Homo sapiens: one gene and its partner. The protein of the gene in region 1 binds, or shares a complex with, the protein of each later gene. Each region holds a gene or a part of one and is shown in the gene's direction. Other genes may lie near its edges.

Evidence for each region. The genes of interacting proteins can lie anywhere in the genome.
Region 2: the proteins of GPR161 (region 1) and GNAL are in contact, whole or in part, in a cryo-EM structure (PDB 8KH4), measured with the Homo sapiens proteins. Residues at the interface, in NP_001254539.1 of Homo sapiens: Arg125, Ala128, Val129, Leu130, Pro132, Met133, Tyr135, Pro136, Met137, Ile139, Ile211, Val214, Ala215, Lys218, Ala219, Lys267, Ala268, Thr271, Trp327, Asn328, Lys329, Arg332; in NP_001135811.1 of Homo sapiens: Ala41, His43, Lys203, Val204, Phe206, Phe363, Cys366, Arg367, Asp368, Ile370, Gln371, Arg372, His374, Leu375, Gln377, Tyr378, Glu379, Leu380, Leu381.

The regions. Positions count from the first base shown.
Region 1 is NC_000001.11:168,133,220-168,141,501, reverse strand, and holds the start of GPR161 (G-protein coupled receptor 161), read left to right. Parts: upstream 1-4,571; 5' UTR 4,572-4,763; exon of another isoform or gene 4,764-5,105; coding exon of another isoform or gene 5,106-5,245; exon of another isoform or gene 5,246-5,492; intron 5,493-6,465; exon of another isoform or gene 6,466-6,580; coding exon of another isoform or gene 6,581-6,596; intron 6,597-7,580; exon of another isoform or gene 7,581-7,626; intron 7,627-8,282. UniProt on the Homo sapiens protein: Key negative regulator of Shh signaling, which promotes the processing of GLI3 into GLI3R during neural tube development.
Region 2 is NC_000018.10:11,867,264-11,874,847, forward strand, and holds part of GNAL (guanine nucleotide-binding protein G(olf) subunit alpha), read left to right. Parts: intron 1-1,279; coding exon 1,280-1,400; intron 1,401-5,004; coding exon 5,005-5,135; intron 5,136-7,584. UniProt on the Homo sapiens protein: Guanine nucleotide-binding protein (G protein) involved as transducer in olfactory signal transduction controlled by G protein-coupled receptors (GPCRs).

The DNA.
Region 1 (8,282 bases):
CTTTTTCATTCCTTCTGTTTGTTCCTTTCCCTTATTGGAAACCTTCTTTTTATTGTTTTTGGTTTGTTTTTCCACTTTTAAGTATAAGCAAATACCTATATATTTATTTTCTTTCCTTTTCTCACATAAAAGATAACATAGGCTGGGCGTGGTGGCTCACACCTGTAATCCCAGCACTTTGGGAGGCCAAGGAGGGTGGATCATTTGAAGTCAGGAGTTCAAGACCAGCCTGGCCAACATGGTGAAACCCCGTCTCTACTAAAAATAAAAAATTAGCCTGGTGGTAGTGGGGCGCGCCTGTAATCCCAGCGACTCGGGTGACTGAGGCAGGGGAATCGCTTGAGTCTGGGAGACAGAGGTTGCAGTGATCTGAGATCGCGTCACTGTACTCCAGTCTGGGCAACAAAGTGAGACCATGTCTCAAAAAAAAAAAAAAGATAATGTATAGCAAATATTCCTGCACCTTGCTTTTTTCCACTTAACAATACGTCTTTGAGGCCACTACATGTTAGTGTATAGAGATTTTCTTCATTCATTTGTAGCACTGAATCCTAACTTATTCCTCTAATCCCCTACTGACAGACATTTGGGCATTTTTAATCTTCTGTAATTACAAATGTATCCCAAATATATAATGTTGCTTTTTATTGGCAACAGAAGATAAATGTGTACTTGAGGATTTTTTTAATAGATCAAAAGATAAATGTACTTGAGGATACTTTTTTCCCCCGATACAAAATATGTGGAATTTTTTCCAACATCAATCAATTCTCTGACACCAATTGGGTATCCAACAATTCAATTCAATTCCGACACTAACTGCCTGAGATAGTTCAGACTCCACAGATTAAGGGCTCAGTCCCATACACTGTCCCCACTTCAGGCACCACATGAATGTCCAGGGCCTCCAGTACTTCTGACCGACTTGGCTTCAGATCAGGAGTTCCCATGGCTAATAATTTCCTATAACAGCTCACAGAGCTCAAGAAAGCACTTTACTTACTTTGATTACTGGTTTATGACAAAGGATGCAATTCAAGAGAAGCCAGATGGAAGAGATGTGTAGGACAAGGCAGTGGTACGATCTCAGCTCACTGCAACCTCCACCTCCCCGGTTCAAGCAATTCTTGTGCCTCAGCCTCCCATGTAGCTAGGACTACAAGTATGTGCCACCATGCTCGGCTAATATTTGTATTTTTAGTAGAGACACGGTTTTGCCATGTTGGCCAGGCTGGTCTTGAACTCCTGACCTCAAGTGATCCACCCGCCTTGGCCTCCCAAAGTGCTTGGGTTACAGGAGTGAGCCACCGCATCCAGCCCAATAATGCTCATTTCAATATATCAGCCCTAGTGGATGACATCATGAAGTGGTCAGACACTTGAAGTTATAGACAGGATCACTGCAAGTATGACACAGATATATAAATGTAGACCAAGTCACCTAACTTGTACTAGTAAATCTGATACCATGAGTGGCATTGTTAATAGTGAGGTGATTTCCAAAATACTGAACAACTCTTGGTGAGGTTTGAGTAAATCAAGGTGCAATCTTCCTTCAATTCACATAGTACTTGCATTCCTAGACAAATTGCTGTACAACAAAACCATGCAAAAAAACCCCTCATGGATATATGTAAAATAGTTTGGTTTCAGACTTAGAAAAGTATAGACAGTTTTTACTGTCATGTGTGAAAGGAACTGTTCTTTTTGTGTAGGACTATTTCATGTACTGCAAGATGTCTGGTATCCTGGGCCGCACCCAATAAATGCCTGGGGTGTCCTCTAATCATTGTGACAAACCCAAAATGCCTTTCAAAATGTCGTATTAAGAATCACTGAGTGAGATGCTTTCTGTTCCAAGTAACAGAAATAAACCCATACTGATTCAATAAAAATATATGTATATTGATTGGCTCTTGTTTCTGATCAGTCCAGAGGCACATCAGTTTCAGGGAAGTTTCCATCTGAGGTCAAATGGTTTTACCATTCTATCAGTGGAGGCATACTGTAAACAAATAAATAGAAAAATTGATGCATATTTTATAAATTTGGACACATTTTATGTAGAAAAACAACAGAGCTGTGAAAGAGTACATAGATTAGAGAATTTCTTTTAGATTGGTCAGGGGCTGAGTGCAGTGGCTCACATCTGTAATTCCAGCACTTTGGGAGGCCAAGGTGAGAGGATAGCTTGAGCCCAGGAGTTAAAGACAAGCCTGGGCAACATAGCAAGATCCCATCAGGGAAGACTTCTCTAAGGAAGTGACATTTAAGGTGAGATGTGAAGGGCAGGAAGGGCTTGGCCTGTAAAGAGTGGAGGAAATAACATTCCATGTGGAACAAATAGCATATTTCACAGTTTTGCTTTCACCAGTTTTATGTGGACTGCTAGACTGAAATGATATTTTACATAAAATATGTTTTATATATAAATTATTCAACACACATGTGAGGTTCAGTTGGACAAGGCCTCTCATTATCTTACTTTATAAGTCTTTGTGGATGTCTCTAAAACAGAATGGTTTATTAAACTAATTTGGGAAAGGAGAATTAGTGTGTATCTTTCTCTTTTTCTAAAAAAATATAAATACATTCTTGCACAAAATCAGTCACGTTTTTCACAATTGTCACCTATACAATGATATACGGTGAAATAATTACTTTAATAATAATTTGTCTGTTTTCTCTGCATCTGATTGAATTCTGCTCATAGCTCAATATTAGCTCCAGAAGGGAAAAAAATCTTAAGAGAGCAATTGAAAATGCATTTGTTGGCAGCAATTTCCATCCCTGAATGCACAGTAAGTTCTGAGCTTATGAGCTCAGAAAAAAGAAAAATCTTTGTGATAAATAATGCATTTGATAATGAGCAGCAGGAGAAAAAAAGTGTTTTCTGTTGAAGAGTTCAAAATGAAATAGAGTAAGTATGGGAAAAGGTTGCTCAGTATGAAGGACATCTTTCGCATCATGGATGGGTATGGAGCCACAACAGCCGTAACTGTTTATTTTTTATTCTCATTCTCACCATGCCAGTCTGTGGCATATATTTTCAGACCTTTCGTGAATACCAATTTTCAAAAGGGTTTAGTTCTCAGATTCTATGTCACTGGATGATTTACTTACATGACCTCATTTAACCTTTTCAACTCTACAGATAGGAAAGTATGAGTATCCCCATTTTATATATGAATAAGCTGAGAGGAAGGTTAACTCACTCCCTCAGGCTCATAGAGCTTAGCCGACATCTGAGTCAGTGTAAATTAAATAAATATCAGGGATTTCAAAATAAGTGTCTAAAATACTATTAAGAACAGAAAGCTTTAAGCTCCTTCAAGTGTCTGGCTTGCCGCGTGACCTAGACTCTTAAGTGGAGCGTCAGCTTCCAGTTTTTGACCAAATAAAGCATTTATCCCATAGGAATATTAAGGCACCCATTTACTTTTTTCTCCCCATTATCCCATTTGTCCCCAGAGCAATGTGGGTGTTTGGCAGGTGCCAGACAGTAAATTACTGTTCTAAATTGTGCCTCAGTGGCCCAATAATATTAAGGAAGCATCTCCCACAGTGTCAATCTGTAGACAAGGGAATAATTAATGTATTTATCAAAGCAGATGGATTTCAGAGGAATGTGAATCCTGCTCTAAGCACAGCATCAGGGTTTGTTTTTTTTTTTCTGGAGTTTAGTGAACTGGGCTTTGTAACTTCTTACCTGATTATTTTGCTGCCCTGTTTGTCCTTCCTTCTTTCCCTTTTTAGCAGTTCTACTCTGTGCTTCAACTTTTCATCCCCTTATTAAGACTGCTGCATAGAAAACGTAGGAGTCTGGAGACAGGCAGGCAAAGTGGGGAGTGAGGAAGGGAAAACAAACATTCTGAGAAGGAACTGTTCCGTCCCCCGAGCTGACAGCGCCCGCTCTTTGTTTTGTGATGACTGCTCCCTGGCCTTTTGGTTCCGAGGGAGTGCAGGGCAGCAGTGTGAAGACCTGTTTACGTCCACTCCCCACTCCCCGGGGCTGGCTTCGGGACGAATTCACTGTGGTATTAACAGAGCCCGGGACAGAGCCTGGCAGAAGGCAGATGGATGCTCGTGCCCGTCGGCTGGATGAATGAAAGGTGAGCAGCAAAGGCGATACCAGGATCGTCCACGGCGGGACTGGAGGAGGAGAATGGGACTGTGCGGAGCCTGCGGGAAGAATCTGAAAGTGTCTGTGTGATGGAGAGAGACATGGAAAAGGCGACGTCCCAGCGGCTGGAACTGGGGCGGAGGAACGGGAACAGGGAAGGCCTGAGTTAGGCACCACAAAGGTTTTCAGGAGAAAAGTGGGGCGAGCCGAGAGGGTAAGGGCGAGACAAAGAGCAGCAGCCGAGGCTGTTCGTGGGAAGAAATGGGAAAGAAGCAGCCGGGAGGGCGGGCGGACGGACGCGAAGGAAGGGGCGCGGGTGGGGAGGGGCGCCGGGAGCTGGGCGGGGCGGGGCAGTGCGGGGCGCGGGGAGGCGGCTCGGGGCTCCGGGGGCCGGAGGGGCCCGGCCGGGCGTGGGGGGGGCGGGGCGGGGCGCGGGCGCCGCAAAGTTACTTGGCCTGCGCCCGCCCGGGTCCGCGTGCTGGTGGCTGGCCCGCGGGAGGAGCGAAGCGGGGCTCGGTGGGCTGAAACCCGAAACCTCCAGTCCCGGAGCGCGGCGGGGAGGAAGGAAGCGGCGGCGGCGGTGGCCGAGGCGGGGAGGCGGCTGGGCCGGGGCCTGAGCTGCCGCGGCGGCCGCTCCTCGGTGAGCACCCGGCGTGGGGCGCGGGCGCGGGCCCGGGCGGAGAGGGCGGTCCGGATGGAGCCAGGCTAAACTCATTGTGCGAGGCTGAGGGCTCAGGGCGCGGGCCGGGAAGGGTCCCCGCCCCCACGGCGCTCCCTTTCTCCCCGCGCCCCTCTCGGAGGTCAGGGCTGTCCTCCGCCCGCACTGCGCCTTGCTTTGGAGAGCTGGAGCTCTTTGTGGGAAGATGTTGGGGGCGCGCCCCTCCCCTGCGGCCTGGGGCTTCTGAGAGGCCCACCCCATTCTGCTGGGTGCAGCCCGCCCCGTTTCTCCGGCGCCGCCCGAAGCCCCTAAACAGTCCGCTGGATGGGAGGGCGTAGGTGCGTGCCCGGGACTCTGCCGATGCGGGCCGCGCCCCCTGGGGCCAAGAGACTCCACGTCCCGCTCAGGGCAAAGGGTGTGGGGAGAAGCGGTCACGCCCCTCGGCTGGAATCCGTGAGGACCAGGTGAGCAGCCTTCTCCCAGCCGGGACTCAGGGCGCTGTCTCCCCGAGCCTGGGCGGGCGGCGGGTGGCGCGCCCAGAAGTGGCCCGGCGCCGCCGGATGGGCGGCTCTGCCCCTCAGATCTGCGGGAGGGAGATTCGGCTGGTTCTTGGAAAGGGGAGAACTCGACCAGCCCTCGGCGCCTTCTGGGCCAAGCTTAACCCCCGTGCAACCTTTGGACAAAGGCATATGGGATGAGAACGTCTGTTGGGTAAGTGGGGTGTGTCCTGTGCTTCCCGGAGGTCTGCTCACCAGTAACCACATAGCTGCGCATTGGCATCGCTTTATATCACATCTTGGAGGCTATTTTTGCTTGTTATTGTACTTTCATCCCTTTTGCAAAGTGCTTTCATAGAGCAGGTCATTTGATCCACCTCCCGGTGAAGCCGTGAGGAGGTGTGTGGTTTTGGAGGGAAAGAACCTCAGTTCCTTGATTGTCCAATGGAGACACCGATAACCTCCGGTGAGCCTGTCTCAGCGTCCTAGGGGCTGGGGGAGGATGGCCATCCTTGTGGCTCCTCCGTGGAGCCAGGCGTGGATTCAGCCTGGCTTCTTCTCCCCTAGTGACCTGGACCTCCAGATGAGTTCTGGAGAGCTACTGCTTCGGGGAATAGGCGGTTTTCCCTTATAATCTATTTTACTGCAGCCACTGGGAGCAAGTGAAGAGAGGCATTTTTCAGGCCCTCAGGGCAGAAAGAGGAGGTGGGAGGGACCTCAGGTCATAGAGACAGAGGCTCTTCAACTGTAACTGGAATGCATGGCACCCATTTCTGTTACTTCTTTCAGAGCACCTCTCTTCCGGTCCTCCTCCACACCCGTCTTATTTTATACTTGTCAGGTGCTTACAAGCACTTTCATGTACACTTTTTCATTCACACAACAACCTTGTGAAGCTCTACTAGCCCATTTGATAGGTGAGGAAACTGAGGCTCAGGAGAGATGAAGCATTCTTGCCCAGCTAGGTAAGCAGCCCAGATTGAACTCAGATCTTTTGCCTTGGTAGTGCTTTTCACGTGGTTTCCTGATGGCACACAGGTGAGTTCTTTAACTCAGGGCTTCTCCCTGCCCTGTAGCTCCACTGCCATAACATCAAGAATAGAGACCCCTCATTAAGAGGCCCGCTTGACATTTTGGAACTAATCCAAGGCCGCAACGATATCCGAACCGTTCTCTTTGTGTTGCAGCCTGGTGCACTGTGCGTCCTCTGAGAGGTGAAGGAGCACTGTGTGGTCAGAGGGCTGCGAGCTCTCTGTTTGGGTTCCGAGGAAGACAGAATGGGCTGAACTGGAACTGACCTAAATGTCAGCAAGAGGAGGTACAGTTCTGTGGTGTAAACTCCACTGCCAGCAGGGACCAGTCAGGAAGCCTGAGTGCAGGAGGCGGGTGGACAGGAGGGCTGGGTGGGAGCTGTGTGCTGCTAAGCCTGTCTCCAGTAAGGGGGCAGCTGCAGGTGCGGTGGGGCTCCAGCACATGGTTGCCTGATCTTAGTTTTGGGGGAAACTGTAAATTTTTACGGAAAACAAGCTTCATATATTTTTAAAGATAGCAACTGATTCAAAACATTTTTTTTAATGTGCGTGCAGTTTAACCAAATTATGTGTGCAGGCTGCTTGCGTCTTCTGTGTGAGACCTTGGGAAGCACTGACTGTCATTCTGAGATGCAGTAAAGCATGACAGCAGGGGAGAAATGGTGTCTTCTTGCTGTTTTTCTATAAGAACAAAAAACATCAACAGAACTAGAGATAGCTATCAGTGCTACCTGGAGTTTGGAGGAGGGATTGACTTTATGACTCCATACTTCATTCATTCACCCAGTACTCGTCTATGACTCTGTTTCTACACCAAGAGAAAAGGCTTACAACTAGTTTTAATCTATTTCCTTGCACATTTTATGTGCTCAGCAGGGGAGAGGATAGCATTCATGGCAAATATGTTCAGGGAGTGCTGGAGCATAAAGGAAGGAATTTGCAGTTGGCCAGGGGTAAAGCATGAGGAGGTATATTTCAATTTTATTTTAGTTTGTGTTTGTTTTATACTCAAGCAATGGGTGAGAGAACACTGTGTTAAGAGCACTATCTGAAGTCAGACAGCCTACCTCCCAGCCCTGCCCCTTATAAACTTGTGACCTTAGGTAAATAATGTAAAGCATTCATGGAATATAGTAATTTTTCAAAACTAAGAGCTGTAAATATTTTAAAACACAGTAACATATAGGAAAATAAATTAAATTCCCCTCCACCTCTTCTCTACTCCTTCTCCCCACCTTTGAGATAACCACTGTAAATGTCTGTCTTTTTAGGTCTTTTTCAGTGTGCTCAATATGGTCACCAAGCCTGGAAACATAGGTGAATATATAGTTTATTGCTATTATATAAAACATGATAAAAAAGTATTACCTACATTTCTCACTTTAGGACCAACCTGAATATATTGAATATACTTGAAAAAATACATAAATGAAGCTGGGCATGGTGGCGCACACCTGTAGTCCCAGTTACTTGATAGGCTGAGGTGGGAGGATCGCTTGAGCCTAAGAGTTCAAGTCCAGCATGGACAACATAGTAAGATCCTGTCTGTTAAAAAAAGAAAAACATAAATCGGGTCATATAATAATGCTCTGTGGTTTACTTTTCTGATTTAACAATATGACTTAGAAGTCATTCAATAACAATAACAGATACATTGTACTTCATTCTTTTTAATAATAACATAGTATTTCATAGTATCGGTTCCCTATAAATTATTTAAACATTCCCCTCTTGATGGACTCATAGATTGGCTTCCAATTTAATTTAGATTTTCTGTGTATCTTTATCTGTGTACATGTACAATATTTCTGGGTAAAAATTGTTCCTGGACGTGGGATCTGTGGGTCAAAGGAAATGTACATTTTAAGTGGTTATTTAAGCAGAATTATCTTTGTTTATTGAGGTCTGGAAGATTGTGTAGAAAAAGAGACTGAATTATTTACTGTATTTATTTAAGGTTATTTGTTTGAGAA
Region 2 (7,584 bases), on another chromosome or scaffold:
ATTCTAACACTCAGCACTGCTGTGCTTAACTATTCTTGAATTAGATAATCTCTAACTAATATGTAAAGTATAGCATTTATAGATTATGATGCTCCTTCCTTAGATACTAATCTCATTAAAAAAAGCATTTAAGGGCCTGACACGGTGGCTCACGCCCGTAATCCCAGCACCTTGGGAGGCCAAGGAGGGCGGATAACCTGAAGTCAGGAGTTCGAGACCAGCCTGGCCAACATGTCGAAACTGGGGCTCTGTTAAAAATACAAAAATTAGGCCGGGCGTGGTGGCTCATACCTGTAATCCCAGCACTTTGGGAGGCCGAGGCGGGCAGATCACGAGGTCAGGAGATCGAGACCATCCTGGCTAACGAGGTGAAACCCCGTCTGTACTAAAAATACAAAAAATTAGCCGGGTGCGGTGGTGGGTGCCTGTAGTCCCAGCTACTCAGGAGGCTGAGGCAGGAGAATGGCGTGAACCTGGGAGGCAGAGCTTGCAGTGAGCTGAGATCGCACCACTGCAGCAGTCCGGCCTGGGCAAAAGAGCGAGACTCTGTCAAAAAAAAATAATAATAATAAAAAAATTAGCCGGGTGTGGTGGCTCATGCCTGTAATCCCAGCACTTTGGGAGGCTGGGGTGGGTGGATCACCTGAGGTCAGGAGTTCAAGATCAGCCTGACCAACATAGTGAAACCCCGTCTCTACTAAAAATGCAAAAATTAGCCGGGTGTTATGGCGCACACCTTTAATCCCAGCTACTCGGGAGGCTGAGGCAGGAGAATCACCTGAACCCGGGAGGCAGAGGTTGCAGTGAGCCAAGATTGCGCCATTGCACTCCAGCCTGGGCAACAAGAGTGAAACTCTGTCTCGGAAGAAAATACAAAAATACAAAAATTAGCCAGGTGTGGTGACACATGCCTATAATCCTAGCTACTAGGGAGGCTGAGGCAGGAGAATCACTTGAACCTGGGAGGCGGAAGTTGCAGTGAGCCAAGATCATGCCATTGCACTCCAGCCTGGGAGACAAGAGTGAAACTCCATCTCAAAAAAAAAAAAGCACTTAAGCATCCCAAATTTACATGTGTCTTTTGGGGTGGGCTCTTCATCAAGTGCGTTACTGAAGCAACCAGTGGTGCGCGGCGCACCTGCAGGCTGTTCTGTGACTGAATAGTCCTATCACTGAATGAATGTTTTTGTGGAACTGAGTAGCTGCTGGGTGTGTACTTTCTTGTAACTCCACAGTGAGGATGTCTAACTGAGGTGCTTTCCTTTTTCTCCCCACCAAGATGTCACAGCTATCATTTACGTCGCAGCCTGCAGTAGCTACAACATGGTGATTCGAGAAGATAACAACACCAACAGGCTGAGAGAGTCCCTGGATCTTTTTGAAAGCATCTGGAACAACAGGTGACAAAAATAGCAAATTCAGTCTTACCATTGGATTGCAAATTTTCTTTTGTTAAAAATACGCTCAGGCCAGGCGTTGTGGCTCACACCTGTAATCTCAACACTGGGAGGCCGAGGCAGGTGTGTCACTTGAGCTCAGCAGTTGGAGACTAGCCTGGGCAACATGGAGAAACCCTGTCTCTACAAAAAATACAAAAATTAGCCAGGTGTGGTGGTGCACACCTGCCCAGTGACTCAGGAGCTTGAGGTAGGGGGATCACTTGAGCCCAGGAGGTAAGGGTTGCAATGAGCTGAGATCACACTACTGCACTCCTGCCTGGGCAACAGAGCAAGACCTTGTCTCAAAACACACACACATACCTACACCCACACCCACACACCCACACACTCTCTTTACTGATAAATCCAGAACCGTACGAAGTATCTCTTTTAGTTCATCTATTGTATAGATATACTTAAAATGTGGAATATTTTTTTTTATTATTTTTTTTTTATTTTGAGATAGAGTCTCGCTGTGTCACCCAGGCTGGAGTGCAGTGGCGCCATCTCGGCCCACTGCAAGCTCCACCTCCCGGGTTCATGCCATTCTCCTTCCTCAGCCTCCTGAGTAGCTGGGACTACAGGCGCCCTCCACCACACCCAGCTAATATTTTGTATTTTTAGTAGAGACCGGGTTTCACCATGTTAGCCAGGATGGTCTTGATCTCCTGACCTCGTGATCCACCCACCTCGGCCTCCCAAAGTGCTGGGATTACAGGCGTGAGCCACCGCACCCGGCCAATGTGGAGTATTCTTTGATGAAGTTCTGATAGTTCTTTGTCAAGAAAATTTAAGTCTCTGTTTTGAAAGGCTAAGATTATATTCGGCCTTCCATATCTTCAGGTTCCACATCTGCGGATTCAACCAACCACAGATTGAAAATATTCAAAAATAAATTTAAGATAGCAGTACAACAACAAAAAATAATACAAGATTACAGTGGCATACGCCTATAATCCCAGCACTTTGGGAGGCTGAGACGGGGGAATTGCTTGAGCTCAGGAATTGGAGACCAGTCTGGGCAACATGTTGAAACCCTGTCTCTACAAAAAATACAAAAATTAGGCATGGTGGGGCGCGCTTGTAGTCCCAGCTACTTGGGAAGCTGAGGCAGGAGGATCACTTGAGCCCAGGAGGCGGAGGTTACAGTAAGCTGCGATTGCATCACTGCACGTCAGTCTGGGCGACAGAGGGAGACTGTGTCTCAAAAAACGTAATTAATTAAAATAAAAAATTGAGCAAATAAAAAAATTGACTAAAAATAATACAAATAAACAATACAGTATAACAACTACTTACCTAGCTTTTACATCGTGTTAGGTATTTTAGGTAATTGGAGATGATTTAAGCATACGGGAGGATGTGCATGGTTTATATGCAAATACTACACCATTTCATATAAGGGAGCCTCCTCAAATTTTGGTTTTCACAGGGAGTCCTAGACCAATCCCCCACGGGTATCAAGGGATGACTCTATATCTAGGGTTCAAAATAGGTTTTGTTTGGTTTTTAAATTTTAGGAAGTACCAGTTTAGGGGCCGGGAACAGTGGCTCATGCCTGTAATCCCAGCACTTTGGGAGGCCAAGGCAGGAAGATCACCTGAGATCAGGAGTTCGAGACCAACCTGGCCAATATGGCGAAACCCCGTCTCTACTAAAACTACAAAAATTAGCCAGGAGTGGTGGTGGGCGCCTGTAATCCCAGCTACTCGGGAGGCTGAGGCAGGAGAATCGCTTGAACCCGGGAGGTGGAGGTTGCAGCGAGCTGAGATCGCACCACTGAACTCCAGCCTGGGCAACAGAGTGAGACTCTGTCTCAAAAAGTAAAAAAAAAAATTTTTTTAATTTTGAAAATAAATAAAGTACCAGTTTAGGACATCCACTAATAACTAGATGATCTCTAAGATCCCTTACAGCTCACAATCACCACATAATCATGTTTGAAACTACTAGCATTGCAGATTGGCAGAAGTGATTATTTCAGAAAGGAATATTTAGCGCGCACACACACAATACATACATATATAGTTAGAAATCAAAGTTTCTTCTGAAATATTTTGGAAGAAATATTACCAAGGAGGAGAGGAAACATAAGTTTACCTTATAAAAGTTTTGGATTATCAGAAAAGTGTTTTTGTATGAAATGTTCAACAACCATCCTCAAATTTGTGGTAATAAGACTGTTAATAGGAAAGAAACAGGGTCAGGAAATACCAGGTATACAGAAGGATACTATAGAGTTATTATGAATTTATTTATAAACACTATATGTGTAAGTGGGAAAATGACCACAATCTTCTTATAGGAAAAAGCTGATTTTAAAACACTATGATCTCGTTTTTAAGTATGTGTGAGGACAGAAAAAAACTTGGGCATGAAAACATAAAATTTCTGTAGTAATTGTTTCTGGGTATAATTACATTTGATTTTTTTCTGTATGTTTTTCTATAAGATTTGTTTTTACAAAGGTTATATATTTTATTACTAGAAGAAGCAGGTAAGCTATTTCCATTTGACGGGAAAGTGGATTGTGTGTGTGGGTTTTTCTTTCTTTTTTTTTTTTTTTGAGACAGAGTCTCGCTCTGTCCCCCAGGCTGGAGTGCAGTGGTGCAATCTCAGCTCACCACAACCTCCACCTCCCCAGTTCAAGCGATTCTCCTGCCTCAGCCTCCCGAGTAGCTGGGACTGCAGGCACGTGCCACCACGCCCAGCTACTTTTTGTATTTTTAGTAGAGACAGGGTTTCACAGTGTTGGTCAGGCTGGTCTCGAACTCCTGACCTCGTGATCTGCCCACCTCTGCCCCACAAAGTGCTGGGATTACAGGCGTGAGCCACCACACGTGGCCAAATTGTGTTATTAATTGATAGTAAGATTCCTGTAGACTAATCAGTTAGCTTGATTCCTTTGAAGTGATGGAGGCGGAAGAAGAACCAAGCCAGCTGCATGTTAAGCTCTGTGTTATTAGCTAATGAGTCATATATTACTTTGTTGTTGTTAACACTTTCACTTCTAATGTGAGTTTTCCGACCTTTTATTGGTAAATTACACCACAGAAATTCAAGTGAACTCATTACATAAGTAAATCTTAGCTTTGGTTCCAATAAATCTATATCCCCCATGGGACTGAATTAGAAAGTGCTTAACTACAGATTGAGTATCCCTTATCCGAAATGCTTGGGACCAAAAGTGTTTAAGATTTCTTGTTGTTGTTGTTTTTTGGAATAGTTGCATTATACTTACTAGTCCAGCATCCCTAATATGAAAATGCAAAGTGTCAAATGCTCCGACAAGCATTTCCTTCGAGCATCATGTCAGTGCTGAAAAAGTTTTGGATTTTGAAGCATTTTGGATTTTGTGTTTTTGGATTAGGGATGCTCAACCTGTACCTATATTTGTTTATCATTCTTTACAGATGGAATGAGGATACTGGTGTACTGAACTTTCTTGAATCCTATACATTTTTAGGAAGACGATGGTATTCTTTTAATTTAGCAACTTCTATGTTAGAGGCACTTTCATGTACTAGTGTATGTGAAATTTGTATGTTTATTTTTCCTTTTTTAGGTGGTTACGGACCATTTCTATCATCTTGTTCTTGAACAAACAAGATATGCTGGCAGAAAAAGTCTTGGCAGGGAAATCAAAAATTGAAGACTATTTCCCAGAATATGCAAATTATACTGTTCCTGAAGACGGTAAGATTTCAAAACACATTCTTATGATTGAGGAATAGAATTGTTTTATTAATAGTCCTGTAACTCTAATTCACATACCTCTGATGAATCAAAGAAATTCACTTTATTTAAATCAATTTTCTTTCTACTGCCCATATCCTAAAGTATTAGAGTGTTACAAGGTCCTATTTGTAATCGGATCCCATTTGTAAATGTTTCCGAGTTTGACTTTCCATTGAAACCGTGCAGCAGAAGAAAGAGCCATTTTGGGATGTGACTGTGTCATGCTGGTATGAGCTCTCCCTCTAGTGCCTTTGGCTGGGTGTGACATGACAGGTGCCTTGTTAGTCCTTGATACAGACCTTCTCACTTCACCCTCAGATGACCCTGCATGGTAGTTTCTATTATTTTTTCCCGTGGAAAGAGAGTCTGAGAGAGGAGAGATAGCGTGTTCAAAGCCACACGGGTAGAGTCATGCAGGCAAGGCAGTCCTTGCACCCTTTGTCCCCAAGCCCATGCTGGCAGCAGCCGCGCTTATCTGCTCCTGTCTCTAGCCTTGCTGTGGCTGCAGCCTTGGGGATTTCCAGCAGGGCCAGCAGCCATCCCAGGCCACCTGAGACTGAGGGGTTTCCGGGGCACGGGACCGTCAGTGCTAAAGCTGGGAAGGTAGACCAGGAAGAGTTGGTCACTCCGTTTCCAGTCGCTTACACTTCAGTTTCCAGTGAACACCAGGTCTACCAGAGGCTCATAGGAGTGATTTAAGGTGAAATAACACCGCTTCTTACATCTTGAATTCCAAACTAGAAAACGCAGAATAAAAGACACTTTCCTGGAAAATATAGTTAAGATTTGGAAAATTTATTTTTTATCCTCAATGAAGAGGGAAAAGAAAACTTGCATTTGTCATTAAACTTTTTTGCTCCTTATGTTCAATGTTCTTTTCTCCCTCATGGGAGAGGCATTATATAAGTATATTCATAGTAAAATCCTGACCCTTGTGGGGCCTTCCAACAAAATCCTACTGCTATCACCTGTGTCATAAAGACCCGAAAAAAATTCCTACTGCTACATATTTCCTTATAGGAATAAATAATAGACATTGGAAATGGGCCTGAGCACCAGCTCTGCCTGTGGTCTCACCAGACCCAGCTGCTTTCATGAGCCACCAGCAGTCTCCGCACCCGCCAGAGGGTCACTCAGCGTGAGGTCAAGGTCCAGGCTCTTCCTGAGACCAAATCAAGTGGAAATCTCATTGCAGTTCATCACTGCCTTGCTCTACCCGCAGCCTGATGATGTGCTTTCCAGGACTGAGGCCGGGTGCCGCTTGCCCATGGCACATCATCAGAGCATGGCTTCTGCTGCGCTTTCTGTGGCTGGCATTGCCAGTTTCCCAGCAAGCTGGGTCTTTAATTCTCCCGCTAACCGCCTCTTGCCACCTCCTGTCACTCAGCTCAGGCAGTGGCTCGGCGGCCGGGGGGTCCTTCCAACAGGGTCTGCCTCCCCAGGCCCTTCCCTCTTTCCCTCCTCATGGCTGTGGTCCAGGCCCTCACTCCTCTCGTCTCAGCAGCTGCCACAGCTTCCTGCCTGACCTCCTGTAGCTGGTCACTCACCTTTCCAGAACATTCTGTGAACTACCAAAGTCACCCTTCTGAGACACAACCTTACCTGCTTAGGAGCACCAAGGAGAAGCACCACCACTGGCTGACAGCCAAGGCCACCTGCCCAGCCGCGGGTGCTGAAGGGCTTCCGTCCAGGGGCTGAGGGGACCCTGGCTTGCTGCCTCGGTGCCAGGCCCAGTGACTGCTCTTCACCCAGCAGCATGCGTCATCTCCATCTGTGCCCTGCCTCTCCCAAGAGACTCACCCATCCCTGAGCATCTGCAGCACCTGCTGGAAGCCTGGGACCACCATCAACTCCAACGTCAACTCTCACTTAGCAATTAAAAGGAACTAACAGTTGGTCCATGTGACGGCATGGGTTAAACTCACAGTAATTGTGCTGACAGAAAGAATCAAAGCAAAAACTACACACCATGTGAATGCATTTGTGTAAATGTCTAAAAAGTAAATTAGCTGGGCGTGGTGGTGTGCGCCTGTAGTCCCAGCTACTCGGGAGGCTGAGGCAGGAGAATCACTTGAACCCAGGAGGCGGAGGTTGCAGTGAGCCAAGATCGTGCCACTGCACTCCAGCCTGGGCGACAGAACAAGGCTCCGTCTCAAAAAAACAAAAAAAAAGCACTCCAGCCTGGGTGACGGAGTGAGACTTAGTCTCAAGAAAAAAAAAAAGAACTCCTCAGATGGTACACGGACACTCTGGGCATTCCAGAGTATGTCAGTGACCCCCACCCCCGCCAAGATAAATGACATGGGCGCTCCCCAGCCACTCCAGAACACAGCCCAGGCAGAGACCCACAGCGGTTGCTGCACCCTTCCCTCCCTCACTGGATGCTGCACCCACCCACCCCCCACAG